2 linked regions of the Homo sapiens genome follow. The protein of the gene in region 1 purifies or fractionates together with the protein of each later gene. This does not show direct contact. Each region holds a gene or a part of one and is shown in the gene's direction. Other genes may lie near its edges.

Region 1 (9,969 bases):
CCAGCAGACCTCCTCTTCTATCTTGTGTGTTGCTTTATATGTCGCTCTTGACAGCTGCTACTATTTATGCATGCATTTCTATAGCAAAACCTTGATTAACTGGGACACAGCAAACTGTAGCACTTAAATGACTATGGTTTTCCCCTATGGACATCATTTGGAGGAGAGAGGGAAGTGACAACTAAAGTTTTGAGAACTGAAGAGAATCATGTAATTCCACATCTTCGATTTTACTGCTGAGAGAAGGAGAATGGATCAAGGCCACCCTGCTGATTAAGAGCAGAGTCAGGAGAGGATTCTCGGTCTATTTTGCTTTCTTCTGGACTGTGGCCTAAAGATGTGTCTTTTGGCATCTCTCTTGGGGGTATTTCTCCTTAAGGTTTTGCCACTACACTGCAGGTCTCAAACTCAAATGCCTGCAAGGGCTAACTGGTAATAGGAATGAGTGGAGGAGGCTGAGTATTCTACATTGGGAAGTAGTAGTGAACTATGGTCCTCAGACTGGAGCCTATATACCCTCTGTAAAGGCATCTAAACTAAAATGTTTTTCATTTTAAGAAGTACAGGACCGACAAAACACATCTGGGAGTCAGAGATGGCTTGATGTTCCCCAGTTGAAGTGCCTTGCACTATGTATATCTATAGGCCTTATTCAATAAGGAGATAATCTGGATTATGGCCCTCAGGCACATTGCCAAAGTAAGTTTCAATACTGTGCATTGATTTATGTTTGTTAAAACAGAAAATTGAAGAGACGCATTTTAGAAACCTGATCATAATATATTTTGTAACAGAGAGAACAGAGTAGAAGCTCTGGCTTCATTTACTGTCTGCTTAGCCAAAACTCTTTGTGGTCCAATTAGCCAAATGAATTCAGATGTCACAGTGTATAGGACATTCATAATTGGGAACACTAGGACCTCTTAGTACCAGAGATTGTCCCATAACATAGACATTCAAAAACATTTATAATCAGGACACACAGTGAGAAATACATTTATATCATTACTGAGCAGAAACATACACACACTCATACATATCACACAAACCCAAAACAATATTTTAAGAAACAATATCTTACTGCGTTCCAAACTCTGATGTTTTCCAACCTATTTCATTTTTATGAAAATACTTTATAATTTACTCATCGGCTACAGCATATAGTTTAAATCACTGGACTAGGTAATGCCATGACATTTTTGTTTATTCATTAATTCAGTAGATATTTACTCAATATCTAATGAGAGCGAGGTGCTCTTTGGAGTGTCATGGGGGACACAAACATGAACAAAACATGGATTTTTGCCCTCAAAGAGTCCAAATCCAATAGGAAATACATACACGTGAATATTTAAAAACTCAGGGCAAAACAATCAGTTCACATTTGACAAACTGCTTTTATGTTATCATAGTCATAATGATAACAAATCTCTTAGGTAAGCTGGGCAGATTTAAACTTAATTTTACAGATGGGAAGTTGCATTTTTGAAAAAGTGACATTTTAAAAAGAAGTGGAATGATAGTAATAATAGATAGCATATGTTAAGCACTTATTATATGTTAGGAACTAATTTACTTCTTACTATAACCTTATTATGATGGCATTACTATAATCCTCACTTTACAGAGGAGAAAAATGAGGCAGAGAGGTTAAGTAACTTGCCCAAAGTCATAGAGCCAGGAGTCATTGGAACTAAGAATCAATCATAGGCAACTTCAATTTTTTTTTTTTTTTTTTTGAGACAGAGTCTCGCTTTGTTGGCTCACTGCAAGCTCCACCTCCTGGGTTCAAGCGATTCTCCTGCCTCAGCCTCCTGAGTAGCTGGGACTACAGGTGCCTGCCACCACGCCTGGTTATTTTTTTGGATTTTTAGTAGATACAGGGTTTCACCGTGTTAGCCAGGATGGTCTCAATCTCCTGACCTCGTGATCCGCCCACCTCAGCCTCCCAAAGTGCCAGGACCACAGGTGTGAGCCACCACACCTGGCTGGCAACTTCAATTTTAATCAATGTATTATATTCTCTGGAAATGAAAATCACAGATCAAAATCCTACATAGGTCATGGCATACATACCTTGATCTCTTAGCCCACCCCAAAAGTGATGTGGCATCTGCTGTGACAGGATAGCATTTGGAATGAGGTGTGTATGAAGGGGATGGGGTGGAATAGAGCCTGGTTCCTCAGTATTCCTCAGTGTCACTAATCTTCATCAAGTTAATAAAGCACCTGAAGGCAGCAAGAGAAAAGACAAAGGGAATGATTGCTGTCCCCAGAAGAGGGCATCTTATCCTTTGCCGTTGTCTCATGTATGATGTAGTATTTTTGAGATAAGTTATGAAGTAGTCTTGAGTTTGGAAAACCAAGAGTTAGGCTGTAAATGTTCACCTTGTGTTTGACCAGTGCCACCTCCCTTAAGCCCAAATTCTCATTCAAAGTTACAAAGACAATTTTCCATTAGGATATCCCTGGAAAAAATAATATTTAGCCTTTATTGAGCTTTTCCCATTTGAAAAACTAAGACTGCCAGGCGCTGAGCTTAAAGCTGCACCCAAGACAGACCAATAATGGTAATAGAGAACAATTGTTAAGTACTACTCTCTCTCTCAATCTGTTTCTCTCTCTCTCTCTCTCTCTCTCTCTCTCTCTCTCTCTCTCTCTCTATATATATATATATATATATATGTTAGGTACTAATCTAATTCTTCTATATAATGATGGTACTCATATTATGCTTGTTTTATAGAGTAGAACAGTGAGATATTCATTGATAAGTATATGAATTTGATCTTTAGCACAGTAAAGAAAATTTTAATGTTGAAATTGGTGCATATCCAAATTTAGGCCCAAGCCCTAGTTTTTAGGCTGTTGTAAATTAACCTAGTTATTGTATTTTCCTGCCTTAATATGCTTCTTATATCTTCAATTTTATAGGATTATTAATAGTTATCCTGATTGACTTTATTTATATTAAGTATAAAGATAAAATTCTTATAGCCCATTCAGATTTTTCTTTACACTTGCAAACTCCAGAGATAGATATTGAAAAATACAAAGGCATATGTCTCATCTATAATTTCTTTCAGCAATATGTCTGCAAGTTGAGCAAAAATAACTGAAAGTGCTCTTTTTGAAAATAATAATTTTCACTTTTCAAAAATGATCCTGTATTTATTTATTTATTTTTTGAGACAGGGTCTCAGTCTGTCACTGAGGCTGGTTCTAAATTCTATTAATCCAATGATTATAGTCCAGCATTTGTCAGGGCACATGATGAACACTAGGTATTTACTGTCCCTGTGTGTCTGTAATGAATTAAAAGAAAAAGTACAGAGAAAGATTATTTAAGATGTTATGGGAAAAGATTTACTAGACTTCACAGAATTATTACTTTAGTCAAGTAACTAAAATAATTCAATCTGACAGATTTGGAAAATTGAAAGTATAAAAATTTGTTTTAAAATTTTTATTGCAGTTTTTCCTGCCACCATTCAGATTGTTTGATCTTGTTATAAATGAGCATTAACTCTGATTTGCAATTCAGGTCACACCATACCTCATCAAAGAATGCAGTTGGGAAAGCAACTGGCCAGGAAGTTTAGGTTTCCCCAGAAGGACTGGAAGGATTTAGAAAACATTTCTTTGGACTTCTTCTGGTTGATGCTCTTCCTACAAGAATCTGTGTTTGGGTGATCCTTGTACAGGAAAATGTCTCTTAGTCCAATTTATTTTATGTAGAACTGTGTAGAGCTAGAGCTTCCCGGAAACTTTCTGAGACCCAAATCATCTGGACTGAAGTCTCTTAGATGCTATTGTTTGATTTTGTGTCCTTAGGTGATTGATATAAGGACAGCAAGAGAAAACCATGTAAGATGAGAAGAAAGCAAAGCTGGCTTTGTGTATGGGCTCAAGTACATTTTACATGCACGTACTTTTTTCCTGTTTTGGTGAGGAAACTCTGTCAAATGACTCTTGACGGGCGCCTCACTTAGTCCCTCCAAGTTTTAGTAGAGAAAATGATAATTTTTAACCAAGACTTACTTGATCTTGACCTAAGATGATGAGAATGAGCAATCCTTCTGAAATCTTATTATTTTAGGTGAAAATAAACATTCGATAATTACATTTTAAGACTTACCAGAGTTTATCCAGGTTTTGTTCAGATCCAGAACTTATACAATGTCGGAGTCTTCTTTTAAGAATACACGATGACAGATACAAAATTAGGTACACAGCTTAATTAACTTCATGATAAATTCTCTTCTGATTATGAGTTACTGCTTTCTTTGGCCAGAATTGTGAAAGAAAAATAAGGCGTGAGGCTAGAGGATGGGGAAAAAAAATCCTTGTCTATCTTGCTTCCCAAGCAGGCCTTCAAGCTAGCTAACTGAAACAGTCTTTTCTCCAGGTCCTAAGGTAAATGGTGGCGGATCTGAAAATGCGTCGGACTTAACCTTGCCCTTCTCCCCAGTTTATTCGCTCAACAAAGAGTTCTAAACAGTCACATCTGCTCTCTAGGCAGAACGGACGCTGCCTCCTAGTATTAGAATACCCAACTCTTTGATATCTCCCTTAGGGATCATCCCTATTCTGGAGAATGTGCAAAATATTGCTCTTCCTTTATATCCTAGCATAGATATATTCTGGCACTTAACATGCATTCTTTTTCTGTTGAATTGAGTTACAAGTCAGTTCTCTAGGACGGTTACCGTCCTGGTGGCTTTGGCGGAATCTTCCGGTGAAAATAGGCTAAGTTGCATGAAATGGGTGTGTCTGGATTTTACCACAAGACCCCTGGTCCTCAAAGCTTCGCAGGCCGAGATACCTCGCCCCTTTCTTCTCTGTCACACGCGTGCGAACACACCCTCCCAACCCACGTCGTAGTAGTCCCCTCCCCCGACCACCCCGCCCCGTTTCCCTTCAACCCCCCTCCTCACGAACCTCCCCTCCCTTCCTACCTCCCTTTCCTTCCCTCCCCGCGGGCCAGCGGCTTTGGCGCTGCCCTGCTGCGCGGCGGGGCGACGCGGCGACACCTATAGGATTGCTTCCGGGCACTCCTCAGCCAGGAGGTGCTGGCCTGGGGCCCGGAGCTCGGCAGGGCCGGGCGGCTCCGCGGCGTTGGCCCAGAGGACGCGCGCCCCCGCCCGGCCGCGTCTCCTTCCCTCCCTCCCTCCTCCCGGCGCCCCGAGCCGAGCTCAGCCCAGGGCGGCGGCTTCGCCTCGCCCGGCGAAGCTTCTCTCCGGTGGCCGCTCCTTCTTTTCCCTCCTCTTTGCGTCATGTCGGGCACTTAATTTTTTTTTTTTTTTAATTCCTTCTTCAGCCCTTTCCACCTTCCATCTCCCTTTTCGCTTCCCAGGTTGATTATTTTCTCTTTTCTCCGGGCTTGCCCATGAGCCTCCTCGGGAGCTACCGGAAAAAGACCAGCAACGATGGTTATGAATCTTTGCAGCTGGTGGACAGTAACGGGGACTTAAGTGCGGGAAGCGGCGGGGTTGGCGGCAAGCAGAGAGTGAACGCCGGGGCAGCGGCGCGGAGTCCCGCCCGACAGCCTCCGGACCGCGCCAGCACCATGGACAGCTCAGGTAGCGCTGCCCGAGGGGAGTGCAGCGCTGAGCCCCGCGCGGCCTCCGGAGCCTCCCAGTCGCCCGGCCCGAGGCCCCCCCGTGGTCCCCCAGCCCCGGTTTGCGAGAGAGCCGGGCTGGAGGCGAAGGCTTCTAATACCACCTGGGTGTCGAGTCTCTAATTTCTCTCATCCAGGGAGCTACGAAACGTTAGATCAGTCCTGAGGCCCAGAGACTGTAGCGAGCTCCTCCTAATCTCTCTAGACTGCTGAATACGGCAGCTGGGGGCGGGGAGGGGGAGGGAAGGAGGAGGGGAGGGGTGGAGAAGAGAGGGGAGCGGGTGGGGCGAAGAACGGCTTGGGAGGAGGGCTGGGAGAGGCAGCTGCTTTCACTGCCCAGCTGGATGAGGGGGAGAGGTGAAGGAGCATGTGCGTTGATTGTTTTTGCAGCATGCAGACGGTATTTATTCCAATTGTTATTCTTGCAATGCTGATGCTATTTGCAATTCTGTAAAGCTCTGCCACATCTTAACTCAGCCGTCTGCTAGGGTTAATGTTACCTTTCTCCTGCAGTTTTTAACCTGGGATCTAGAGCTCTTTTACACAGCTTTTACTGTTTGCACAATGAAATTTATTTCATGTGTTGGCTTTGATCTTGTTTGTCCTTTTGCTTGAGTGTACAGATTTCATAAACCTTTACATGTAGGGACAAGGAAATTCCTCTAAACTTTGTATCGGGGCTTGCAACTGTCTTTTATAAAAGGTTTGGCAAGTTAGAGTCCTCTCTTGGAACTGCTGTTGGCATTTGCGATTTCAATAGCAAAACAGTCATTTAATATATCCATGTTGGACTAGGAGTATTATTATAGCTATTTGCTTACTTCTGCAGGGAACCAGGTTCGGAGAATTGTTTACAGAGATATTTATAATTGAAGTCCTCAGTGGTTGGTTCTACACTGGTAACTTTAATACTGGACAACTGAGGATTCCAGAGGAAAGATTCATATGGGGTCGTTTGAACAGTAATGAAATCAAACTGAATTTAAATGCCCTGCTTTGCAAACAAATGCTTGTTTATTTTAATTGTGTAATGGCTGTCCTTGGGCTATTATTTTCTATTTTCCTTGTCCCAAAGTGGGATGAAATATTGTCCACAGATGCTCAAATGTCCTGGGCTGAAAACAAATTCTACTCATTGAAGCTCTTATTGAAGTTAACCAAGATATTGATGGGACATTCTCTTAGACCATTTTAAATAAAACTAAAATGATCCCCAAGGGATTGATGGTTTCAGGACTGTTTTTTTTTTTTTTTTTTTTTTTTTTTGAGGCGGAGTCTCACTCTGTTGCCCGGGCTGGAGTGCAGGGATGCGAACTCGGCGGACTGCAAACTCCGTTTCCCGGGTTCAAGCGATTCTCCTGCCTCAGCCTCCTGAGTAGCTGGGATTACAGGCACCTGTCACCATGCCCGGCTAATTTTTGTACTTTTAGTAGAGACGGGGTTTTGCCATGTTGGCCGGGCTGGTCTTGAACTCCTGACCTCAGGTGATCTGCCTGCCTCGGCCTCCCAAAGTGCTGGGATTACAGGCATGAGCCACCGCGCCCAGGCAGGACTTTTTTATTGATGTTGTATGTGGTTATTCAATGTATGTTTTTTCAAATCTGTGATATATCAAAGTGTAATCCATCTTTTGACTGGATGTAATCTCCTTTAAATCTTAAAAAGATTCATGTTCTCTGAATGATGCCACCATAATAATGTTTACATGTAGTGAGCATGTAAACAATTGAAATGAAAACAAACATATTCCAAATGAGTGTGAAGGAGCCTCACTTCAGGAAAATGAAAGAAATATGAAATACATATGTTTTCCTTTTTCATAGGGATTATTATTTTAAGAGTTGAAATTGGTTTTTGAAATATGTTACATTGTAGAATAAGTTCAACATACATTTTCTGAGCCCAGCTATGTGCCAAGCACTGTGAGGGAACACAGTAGTGAATGAGATCCTTCTGGCCTCTAGGGGACTCTCAGTGGGGGCAGTAACTATAACACAGAGCAGCCTATGGTAAGTCCTGGATTTTTGAGGATTGTCTTTTTCACTAAATCAGACTTTTTTAATAGGTGGAGAGAAGAATAATGGATTGCTTTAATAATCTGTTGTGATGGGAAAGTGTTTCATTAAGAATATTGTTATCTCTAAAGTGCTATTGCCAGGAGTTGATTCTTAAACTTGATCAAAGTGGTGTTGTGTGAAGAGGCTGCAGGGATTCCTTTTCTCCTCCCCTTATCCATCATTCACTCCTATATTTTATTAGGGGAATATTGTGGCTTTGTTGTAGAAGTACAGGGTATCTTACAATGATTTTGATGCATATTTTCAACTGAGAATGATTTGTTTGGTTTGAATGAAGGATTGGACTCTGAGAGTAGGATTCTTTTACTAGTACAACTATATGTCTTGCCTAATTATAGTTCTTTCTTCTAAGATCCTCAAAGTGTGGCCTGTGCAGTGTAAATATATCCATTTGTTTAGTATATCTAATTAAGTTCATGGATCATTTCTAAAGTGGCAGTAATCTGCCCATTTATTCAACTGATTGTACTGTGACATGCTGGATAGGATCAGTGGTTTATGGGACTTTTGCTCTGATAGAAATATTAATGAGTGGAAAAAATATGTTGACATCTCGCTACATGATTTAAAGCTTAGTCTTAATAATACCTTAAACTTGTAAGACTGTTTATAATAGAACACTTGGACAATTCTCTTATTTCATTTCCCCAGAATTTTATTAAATAGGTTGGGGAAGCAGCATGTGTCTGTGCTTGGAGACTTGGGATCAAACCTCTGCATTATTGTTACTCGCTGAAAAACCTAGTAACCTTTTTCTTTTCTTTTCTAGACAGATAGCTCTGTCACCCAGGCTGGAGTGCAGTGGTGCGATCTCAGCTCATTGCAACCTCCACCTCCCGGGTTCAGACAATTCTTGTGTTTCAGCCCCTCAAGTAGCTGGGATTACAGGCGTGCACCACCACACCCGGCTAATTTTTGTATTTTTAGTAGAGACGGGCTCTTGCCATGTTGGCCAGGCTGGTCTCGGACTCCTGGTCTCAAGTGATCTGCCCGCCTTGACATCCCAAAGTGCTGTGATTACAGGGTCTTGCTCCATTGCCCAGGCTGGAGTGCAGTGGTGTGATCATGGCTCACTGCAGTCTGGACCTCCTGGGCTCAAATGACCCTCCTGCCTCAGCCTCTTGAGTAGCTGGGACTACAGGTATGAACCACCATGCCTGGCTAATTTTTTTTTTTTTTTTCTTTGTAGAGATGGGGTTTTTTGCCATGTTGCCCAGGCTGGTCTCAAACTCCTGGGCTCAAGCGATCTGACCACCTCGGCCTCCCTCCCAAAGTGCTCGGATTACAGACATGAACCACCATGCTTGGCCTGTTCCCATTTATAAAAGTGGAATCATAAGAGCTGTTCTTACCACAGAGCTTTAGTTGAGGCTGAAAACAATATAAAAATACATTTGCAGTTTTTCTTTACTTTGTATCTTGCCCTTTCAATTTATCATATGAAGAAACTTATTCTCAGAGGTGGTAGGAGACCTATCAAAGGTAGAATAGATAATGACAGCCAGACTTAGGTCTTCTGACTCAAAGGTTTGAGTTTTTCCCCATTGAACTAAACTTTTGGGTAGACACAATATCAACTGATTGTTGAAATGGAAACATTTTTATCTACTTTGATTTCCCCCCTGTTTTTAGATAAAAGAGGGGTACATGTTCAGAGGAATGTAATGGCTTTCTAAGTCAACAGCCTCTCAAGTGGTAGATACCAGAGCAGTCTCCTAGCCAGATGTGACTTCCAGAGCTCTCTGCCTTCCCTGGCTCACTTTCTCTTCATTCAAATTATTCTCTAGAAAAGGTTGTCATTTAAAGGTCATCCTGTCATATCTCAAAGGCACTGCACTATCCCAATGCCGAAAACCCCCTATTTCTCTTGTGTGCACCCCACTTTTCAGGGAAAGTAGAACCACAAAAGTAGAACTTTCAATATTGAGCTGCTAAAGTGTTCCAATATTGGGCTTAATTTACCAAGTTCATAATGACAAACTGAAAAAGAGTAGTCCAATTAAAATCTGGAAACAGATATTAATACTTTTTAAAGAATAAGTATAATGATAGGTAAGGATTTCTCTTTTGATTCTCACTTTTTAGGCTTTGTTCTATATATTTAAATATATAGAAATTCACATATATAAATAAACAAAATATTGTATATATTAAAAAAAAAGAATAAGGATAATGAACAATGCTAAAATACCATGTAGTGTGAGTCTGGTTGGAAACAAAAATTACCTTTAACAAATTCTATTTTAGTTAGTGTTTAAACACAGCATCCAC
Region 2 (9,822 bases), on another chromosome or scaffold:
TGATCCACACACCTTGGCCTCCTAAAATGCTGGGATTACAGGCGTGAGCCACCGCGCCCGGCCTCCATTTTTTATTTGAAGGCTAAATGAATTTAAAGTAACACGAGGAAAATGAGGTATGTTAGGAAAAAATGTACAATTTGTTTTTCCTACCTTAATATCTCTGTAAGGTAAGTTTTACAATTTTACAGGTAAGAAAAGTGGAGGAGAGGTAGAATAAGTATTTGGAATACTCAGCTAAGGAATGGTAAGAGTCACAATTTCAGCTGAAGTCTGCCTTGCTTCAAAGTCACTACCCATCCCCATCAGCCACATTGCTTTCTAAACATTTAATGTGCGTGGCCATCTAGCCACACAGCCTGGCCTTTGATAAAGAGATGTGTACGTGGAGTGTCACCTGTTGGTTCATGATCAGGGGAGACTTGTGTCTGTACATGGTGGATTGGAGAAGTATGCAGAGTGTGAGGATATAATCCACATTGTGGCCTTTTCTTTGTTTTTTCTTTTTCTTTTTTTAATCAGCTGACTTTAAGATTCATCTTTTCTCAACTTTACAGAACAATTGAAAGGAGGAAAATAAACATGTGCACCCCCAGATTCAGTAATTAATGGATTATCTTTATATAAATGATATGTTTTAGACATACACACACACAAATTGTTTTGGCTGACCTACTTTAAGATAAAGACATCATATACTTTGTGTCTAAATATTTCAATGTACACCTCCTAGAAATAATGACATTCTCCTATGTAACCACAACGTCAGCAGTATTATTCCCTCTTGGGAACTGTTGAACTAGTGAAAACATGAGTCCTTATTTTTCAGATGGGATAACTGACACCCAGAAATAGGAAGGGACATGACCCAGATGACACAGCCAATTAGTGCCAAATCATTTATCTCTCTAGTCCAATTTAGGTGGCTTTCAGAACAAAGAATGCACTTAGTATTTGAACCTTTATAGCACCATTCATTAGTGATTTCTTTGGTGGAAATATTCTGTATCTGTGCTGTCTCGTATGGTAGCCACTAACCACATGTAACTGTTAAGTACTTGAAGTGTGGCTTCACAATTCAAGTGTGACTGAGAAACTGAATTTTAAATTTTCTTTAATTTTAATAAATTTACATTGAAGTAGCCACATGTAGCTAGTAGCTACCATATTGGACAGTGGAGCTGTAGGAAGATGAAAATAGGTCCTAACAGCTTTGGTCCTTGCTTGTTCTTTGTGTCTCTTGAGTATGCTTAGAGGCAAGATTTAGCTGGTCTTAGTACTGCTGTAGTATTTTTCATGTTACAGAACCCAAATTTATCTTTTCTGTTTTACCAAGCTCTAGCAGTTTTTCTTCTCCATGGAGAGAGTCTACTTTGGTGTCTGGAAAGATTTAATTTTTCAATTATGAAATTGGGTACTTGGGGAATACTCTTATGAGCTGTTTTCTTAATTCAAAGTGCTTTTTTTGAGAGAAGTACAACATTTGGCCTTGCATTCCAACTGAATTGAATTCACTTGGTTCATGAACAAGGTGTTCCTTCAATTTCACCTTTTTTCCTTGCAAAAACTGTGAGAAAGCACGCGATGCTAAAAATAGAGAACCGGTGCCAGTGGTTTTCAGCCTAGCTGCTGGCTACATTCTCAAGTAATTTTCTTTTCTCTGACCAGTAACGAGGGTGGCCAGAAGGGAAGGCACCTGTGAATGTGCTTTGCTCTCTAAGGGGACTCTTCCTCTTCATCCTCTGAGGGGAAGAATTCTAAATTAGTATTGCAGTGGCACTAAAGCTGCAAAAGCCAGAAGACCAATTTAAATGTACTATTTTATGCAGTAACCACAGTCTGTTCAGGAGGTCACCATTTTTATTTAATTTCATTTTTCAGAGATAAATTTTATATTTTAGTCCTAATGTATAGTAAATGTTAACATCAAAATACATTGAAAGAAAATACTGTCCAATCAAAAAGGTAATTATTTGGAAGTAATTTCACCATGATTGAAAAGGGGGCCTTACATTTTGAATTAGGTATTGTCACATGGCACTTCCAGCCCACAGCTTCTCATTGCAGCATAGCTAAATCTTGCATTCCACATCTGTACTTCATGCCATGGATAGACACATATTAGATGTTTACTGTAGAGGCTAGGTGGTGTGGCTCAGGTCTGTAATCCCAGCACTTTAGGAGGCTGAGGTGGGAGGATCACTTGAGCTCAGGAGTTCAAGACCAGCCTGGGCACCATAGTGAGACCCTATCTCTACTAAAAAAAAAAAATTAGCTGGGGGTTGTGGTGCACGCTTGTGGTCCCAGCTGCTTAGGAGATTGAGGTGGGAGGATCACTTGAGCCTGGGAGATTGAGGCTGCAGTGAGCTGTGATAGAACTACTGCAGTACAGCCTGGGCTACAGAGCGAGACCCTATCTCAAATAAAACAAAAAAAAGTTTACTGTATATACTTTAGAGTCATCAGTGAAAAATCTGAGAAAATGATTCTTCTGAACGACAGATCACCTTCCGACAAATTAGATACCGAGATGAACGTTCCTACTAACCTGAAACTTGGGGGAGTTTCTAGCTGCTATTAGGCTTTTTCTTATAGTTACACACAGCCTTTTGCAGGTTGTTACTATAAGACCTTTCTTGCAAAGGCCCTAAAAATGCCCAAGAATACTTCATTTTTCATCCCTTCTAGTAGTTACTTGACACCGCTACTGCTATCTACTCTCCTTCTCAAAGACACTAATTACAGTTTGGGCTCTTGGTCTGCACTTTCAAAACTCTGTCCAGATCACTGGTGGTCACGTTTTGTGATTATTTCTAGGCTTGCCTCCCTTTCTGTCCCTCCCTTTGGAGGAAGCATAATGAGGTAAGCAAAGTGTAAGCTTTACAGCCAGATCTGGGTTTGAATCTTGGCTCTGTCACTTACTATAACCTTTAGGAAATTCACTCAAACTTTCTGAGCTTTAGTTTTTCTCACTGCTGAAAATGTGATCAGAGTTTACCTTCTTGGGATTGTTGTAAAGATTGAGTTAGATGTCTATAAAACACCTGCCAGACAGAAGAACTTGTTTAAAGTGAAGTATCAGGTTAACTTCAAGTGTCAGCTGCCTCAGTAGCTATGACATGTATTTCTTTTTTTTTTTTTTCTTTTTTGAGACAGAGTCTCACTTTGTTGCCTAGGCTGGAGTGCAGTGGTGCGATCTCAGCTCACTGCAACCTCTGCCTCCCAGATTCAAGCGATTCTCCTGCCTCAGCCTCCCCAGTAATCCCCAGTAGCTGGGATTATAGGCATGCACCACCACATCCAGCTAATTTTTTGTATTTTTAGTAGAGACGGGATTTTACCATGTTGGCCAGGCTGGTCTCGAACTCCTAACCTCAGATGATCCACCTGCCTCGGCCTCCCAAAGTGTTGGGATTACAGGCGTGAGCCACCACAAGCAGCCGGCATGTATTTCTTTATCTCTCACTATCTACTGATGTATGTCTCTTCAGCTTAGTGTCTTAGAGAAAACCATATTTAGTCCTCAGAAACTTCATGTTTCATGTTTGAGAATCCAATCTAGCAAACCTGCTAGGTATGCATTTTCTTGCTGTCATTTCTAGAACCTTTAGGTTAACTGTTAGCAATGATCCCATACCTCTACCCCCTGCACTTCTCTCCAGTGGAGTTTCTTTTGTAGCTCTGCCCTGGCTCTGCCACAAACACACTGCAGACCAAGTAGGAGTAGATGCTTTGTGGTCCTCTCTAGTGCTAATATTCTGTGTTCTATCATTCTCTGGTTCCTGAATCATCTCTACCTTTGGTAATTGTCCTAATAGCACCCTGCCTCACAGAAGTGCTTCTACCATATTTAGTTATGAGAGTGCCACCTTGTGTTCCACAAAACCATTGTCAAACCTGGAATATGGACTAGTTTGGGAGAAGAGGTAAAAGATTAAGATGAATACCCTACTATGAACTAATATTGGCAGCATTGGTAAAGAATCATCTATAATTGTTTCTCCCCCAATTGGTGCCCAGAAGGCTTTTTTCCTATTAATAATAGAAGTCAGTATTTCCACATACACCCTTCTCTTTTGCTCTGCCCAAAACAAGACAAAACAAAACTAATGACCCACTAAGATGTCAGTGGACTGGGATAAGACCAGGAATAGGACTGTGGGAAAGACCAGGCAGGAATAGAAGCACTGAAATCAGAGTTGGTTGTGCAAACAGAGAAAACAGAAGTTTATCTTCCCCTCTCTACTCTTCTCCCCCAACAGGCACACAGACATGGACCTGCACCCACCACAAGTTCAGCAAGACCAAAATAAACTGATGAACTTCAGTTTGCACTTTGCCTCAATTGTATTGTCTTTCTCTTCTCTCCCTTCAAAGATGCCAATTCTCGGAAGCAAGAAGCAGAGTGGAAAGAAAAGGCAATAAAGGAGCTAGAAGAATGGTATGCAAGACAGGACGAGCAGCTACAGAAAACAAAAGCAAACAACAGGTCAGTCCGTGGTGGTTGTAGCACACTTTGTTTTCCAAAATTGAATCAAATCCATTCTCAGCATCCAGTCTCGGTTTTTGGCTTCTGCCTCCTTTAGTGTGAAATGTCTGCAGTTTTTAAAGAAAGTGCTTGAAACAGGTTGCAAGTCTCTCGGGTCTTGTGAGCATAATTCACCCTATTGTTTAGCCATCCCAATTGTAGTGAGCTTAGCTCTCTGAGAGTTTGGTTAATATGCATAACCTGTAATGGTGTGATTCAGCCAAGGGAAAAGTTACTTTCCATGGAACCCTGAAACGAAAGCTGGGTGTCATGAATACACCCAGATCTAGTTACTTTGGATATGATTATAGACTTGGTCATGTTGAGTCTCCTCAATATAGCCCTGCCCCCTGAAAGCCACTTCATGAAGGGGTCCGTTGGCAGGAATATGTGCTTTGTAATTAGGCAGCCAAGGATGTTCCAACATGATTATTTTAGAATTGAGGGTTCTGTGGGTACTTATTTGTGCCTTAAAAAGTCTTGAATTGACTTCTTAAAAATGTTCTGTTTGAAATAGATTTTATTTAGTTACTGATGGTTAAGGAGTTGTGAGGAGAAAAACGCTTTCATTCTCATATCACTACTCACCAGCAGCTGGGCTTTAATGCCCTACACTTAGAGCCCTTCTTGGAAGCAGCAAAGAGAGGATATGTGGTGTTGCTTCCCTCAGGGCAGGCAGGTTCAGAGCCCAACTTTCACTGAATAGTCAATCCATTCACTTCAGTGTATAAACGGGCCAGACCGAGCCTGGGGATATTTTTAATTTTCAGGGTAGAGCCTTGGGTTCTCGTATGCAGAGGCAGGAAGCAGGTTGGGTTAAGTGCCCTTGTCTCTGGCAGCTCTGTTAGACAGAGATGTGGCAGGAGAGAGAGCTAACGGCTTTGCCAGCCAGCCAGTGCTATTGTGGGTCCAGTATGACAGAGCAGTTGGACTCTCTTTTATATGCTAGCAGCCCTTCAGCTCATTGGATTCCGGCTTGAGCCTGTGTCCTGGTCACTTTCCTCTGGGGGCGGTGTGCTCAAGGAGTGCCTGTCAGGTTCCATGTGGAGTCCACAGGACTCCACAGTCCCAGTCCCACAGGACTGCTCTCTGGTGTGCAGGCTGGGTTGCCAGTGGTGATGGCTTCCATCAGCTACGTGGGGCTGTTGTTGAGCCTGTGGTCAGTAGGTGGTGCTGACAGGTCCAGGCTCCTGTGTCCTCTGCTCCCTCAAGATGATTTTCTCCCAGGTGGAAGTTCAGATCGGTAAAGCCGAGTGGGGACTGTGTGCAAGCACCCTGCGAGCCCTGAGAACTCCCCCAGCCTGCGACCCCAGCATTTAAGTTTAGTCTGAAGTACTGTAGCTGTGCCGACCCTCCCCGCTCTGGGTCTGTGATGCGTCAATAACTTAACACAAGTTTTCAAACTTAGATAATGAATATGTTGGTAACAGCCTTTCTGTTGCAGAAATTTTTTTCAAGGAAGTTTTGCTGAACTGTCAAGAAAGGGATATTCTCTGTATACAGAATCCGTTGTTCTCAGAGGGAGTAATGACACCTGTTTTTTTTTTTTTTTTTTTTTTGAGATGGAGTCTTGCTCTGTTGCCCAGGCTGGAGTGCGGTGGTGCGATCTCGGCTCACTGCAAGCTCCACCTCCTGGATTCACGCCATTCTCCTGCCTCAGCCTCCCGAGTAGCTGGGACTACAGGTGCCCGCCACCATGCCCAGCTAATTTTTTTCTGTTTTTAGTAGAAACAAGGTTTCACTGTGTTAGCCAGGATGGTCTCGATCTCCTGACCTCGTGATCTGCCTTCCTTGGCCTCCCAAAGTGCTGGGATTACAGGCGTGAGCCACCGCGCCTGGCCATGACACCTGTTTTTAGGAGCTCAGTCTTAAAAGTTTAGTCCCTCCAGGCATTGAATTTGGGCCTTGGTACCTTTCTGTACTTGGAACTGTAGAATGCTGGGTAAGCTGGTCTCACAGATGAACCTCTTAAGTTCCAGAGAGAAGGAACTTCCCCACTGCTCACTGAGAATGTAGAGCTGCTTAGGAAGCAGGTCACTTGCCTTGTGGGAACCTTGCAGCACAGGGCTGACTCTTGAGAGCATAACGCTAGTGGCACACTAGCCATTGTCACCAGGGCTCTAGGACAGAAGAGATGGTTTTTACAGTTTATTCCAGTGATTCTTCACTGGTTGGAGGTGGGATCCATTTGAGAGTCACTTTGGGGGACTTCTTCCAAGGGTCTACACCCTCCCCTGGAGATTTTTATATTGCTGACTACTCCCCCTCTCCATCCATGTTTGACTCTAAACTTTAGAGTTCAAAGGAATAGGTCCCATTTAGATGTATAAAGTAATTCATCCTTGTTATCTGTCTATGGGTAAAGAGTGAATATTTTTAGAAAAGAAAATGGGGGCCGGACACCGTGACTCAACATCTGTAATTCCAGCACATTGGGAGGCTGAGGCGGGCAGATCACTTGAGGTCAGGAGTTTGAGACCAGCCTGCCCAACATGGTGAAACCCCATCTCTACTAAAAATGCGAAAATTAACTGGGTGTGGTGGTGTGTGCCTGTAATCCCAGCAACTCGGGAGTCTGAGGCAGGAGAATCACTAGAACCCGGGAGGCAGAGGTTGCAGTGAGCTGAGATTGCGCCACTGCACTCCAGCCTGGGCAACAGAGCGAGACTCAGTCTGAAAAAAAGAAAAGAAAAAAGAAAACGGGGTGCTCATTTCAAGCAAGTATGATTCTCTCTGGGTGACTTCTGCAGTAGCTAGATGTTAAGGGGACCCGAGAGATAAGGCAGAAAGATGAGAAGTTTGAAAGAGGAAAGTCGGAGACAGGAAGGGCATCCAGTTAATTGTGAGAGCATCCTCAGGCCTCCTGCCTTCCAGCTGCCTCACCACTGGGTCACCAAAGCACTAGGAGCACGTCGCGCCTGGCACTGCACTGGGGGTGGGTGTGCTGTACTCTATTGTCAGTCCCCAGACTGCATCTCCCTTCTTTTATCCCAAGTTGAGGCCTAAGTGTCACAGTACAAGAGCTGTGAATTATTCAGTGACAGCCATGGAAAAGAATTTCCTTTTCATAGCCAGCCAGCCAGAGCAGTGACTGACTCCTGCAGCTGGATGAGTTTGCTCATCAAGAACAACCCCAGAACATTTCCCCTATTACAGGTAGCACTTGTGCTTGTCAGCTCTTTCAAGGCTTGAGAAGGTTTGGGGAACCCACAGTTCTCAGAGATGGCAAACATTTTTTTCTGTGCCCACTTTGAGGCTGTTTATGGAATGAAGTTCTGCATTGTATTCGTGCCTCCAGAGCTTGTCCTAGGTCAGGTATTCCTCTTCCCTCCCCTCTCCTAAGCCTCCCTGAGCCCCTTCCTGCCTTGGCTGAGGATTGCTACTTTCAAGTGAAGGACAAATAAGGGGAGGGCCACCTGTGTGTGTGTCTGATTTTCTGTTTGTTCTGGGCCTGCAACCTTGACAGGGGATGTGCTTGTCACTGAGGAGCTCTTTGGTCTTGGGCTAGCTGCAAAGGAGCAAGAGCCTGACATTCAAACTTTTGTTGTCTTAGTGATGATTTGACAGGAGTCATGAAACCTCTACTCTTCTTGTGGAGGGAAACCCAAGTTGAAATCGATCAGGTTTAGTCCTTTGTGTAAACTAAAAGGGTTATGGGTTTATAAGCCAGCCTGCCTTGCCTTTTCCTCCCACTCATTCTGCCCACAAACAACTCTGTTTTCCTGCTGAGTCACTTTAAGTTATAATCAGCCTGCTCTTTTTGCTTTCTTTAAATTTCCACAAAACACCTCCTGTGTATAAAACAAAATGGGAAAGAAGGAAGGGCATGTGTGAGCTTAAAAATTAACTTAAAATTACTAGAATTTGCCTTCAAATAAGTATGTGAGGTTAGCTTAATGACCAGGCATGATTATCCTTGAAAAATGTCTTTCCCCTTGCCCACCCCAAATCGACTTGACAAAGGACAGGGTAAGACTCCATGAGGGAGGTTCCATGTCCAGCCACAGTGGAGAAGAGTGGGCTGGCAGAGCCCAGGGAGTCAGTCCAGGACAACAGAGTCAAAGCCAGCCTGGCCCCTGCTGTCAAAATTTATCCACCCAGTCTGCCCCCTCCTTCCTGTCTGAGAGCCCTGCCATGTTGAGAGTTAAGAAGGGATGAAGTTCTGGATTCTGGGCTGCACCTTATCAAAGCCAATTGAGTCTGGTGTAAAAATATTCAGAAACTGTACCCGCTTCTTGAGTAGAGAGAGAGCCATATTCAGGAACAACAGAAGCCAGGGCCAGGATCCTAGTCCAGTGTTCTTCCCACCAGACCACTCACCTCCAGCCGTTTTTTCCTGTAAGGTTGAGATTTTAAAATGACGATATGTGTTCCCAGGATTCTGGAAGTGTATCCCACCCAGACAGTGTGGGGAAGCAGTAGTTAGATAATCCAAGATAAAACTGGCTTTGGGTCCTAGCGCATCTGGTGTCTGGCAGCATTCCTGCCCAGTGCATTAACTGAAACAGGAAGGTGGCGTGGCTTTCTGGGCACATACAGCAGGGAAGAAGCATGACTATACAGTAGAAAGAGCCCTGGACTTAGGGCCAGGCTGCCTTGGTTGTGAGTCCTGAATGCTGCCACTGTGGTGTAGCTGAGCAAGTTGTTCATCTCTAAGCCTCAGTTACCTCATCTGTACAGTGGGGGTGAGAACAGTCAGGGTCATAGGTTGTTAACAGTTAAGGATTGAATCAACATAATGTATGTGAAAGGGCTTAGTCCATGATTGGGTGCTTAATAAATGCCCGTGTTGCTGGGGTGAGCCAAAGGGATGAAGTTGGCAGTGCTTGCTCTGTCGTGGAGCAGTCCCCACGTGGGAAGGCCAGCGGGAAACCAGGCCTGCTGAAGTCTCCAGCGCTGGAAGCCTCACGGGGGTTAGGAAGGAGCCTTGGGAGCAGCTCCTCAGAGCACAGTTGTACCTCAATTGTGGATTTTAGATGTTTCTGCTTCTCAATGTTCTCTCTTTTTTCCTGCCTGCTTGCCTGCCTTTTGGACCTCTTGCTGTCTAGGGTGGCAGATGAAGCTTTCTACAAACAACCCTTCGCTGACGTGATTGGTTATGTGTATGTTGCAAAACTAATTCCTTTTTCTACATCTGATTCTTTCTACTTTTGTTTAGAGTTAATGCTCCTTTTATGTCACAAGTTGCTTTGCTTTTTAAATTATTTCAAATTGGCACTTTGGGGGCTGCCTAAGAATTGATAAGCGGGGTATGATCTGTTGATGAATCTTCCAGATTTGTGACTCCCTGCATC

What was found.
Region 2: the proteins of DNAJC6 (region 1) and CLTA purify together in Homo sapiens (affinity purification with mass spectrometry; 2 studies listed by BioGRID and IntAct, with this or other methods). This does not show direct contact.

What each region holds. Positions count from the first base shown.
Region 1 is NC_000001.11:65,304,357-65,314,325, forward strand, and holds the start of DNAJC6 (auxilin), read left to right. Parts: upstream 1-5,186; 5' UTR 5,187-5,389; coding exon 5,390-5,582; intron 5,583-6,887; exon of another isoform or gene 6,888-9,969. UniProt on the Homo sapiens protein: May act as a protein phosphatase and/or a lipid phosphatase.
Region 2 is NC_000009.12:36,199,691-36,209,512, forward strand, and holds part of CLTA (clathrin light chain A), read left to right. Parts: intron 1-4,377; coding exon 4,378-4,489; intron 4,490-5,030; exon of another isoform or gene 5,031-8,864; intron 8,865-9,576; coding exon of another isoform or gene 9,577-9,630; intron 9,631-9,822. UniProt on the Homo sapiens protein: Clathrin is the major protein of the polyhedral coat of coated pits and vesicles.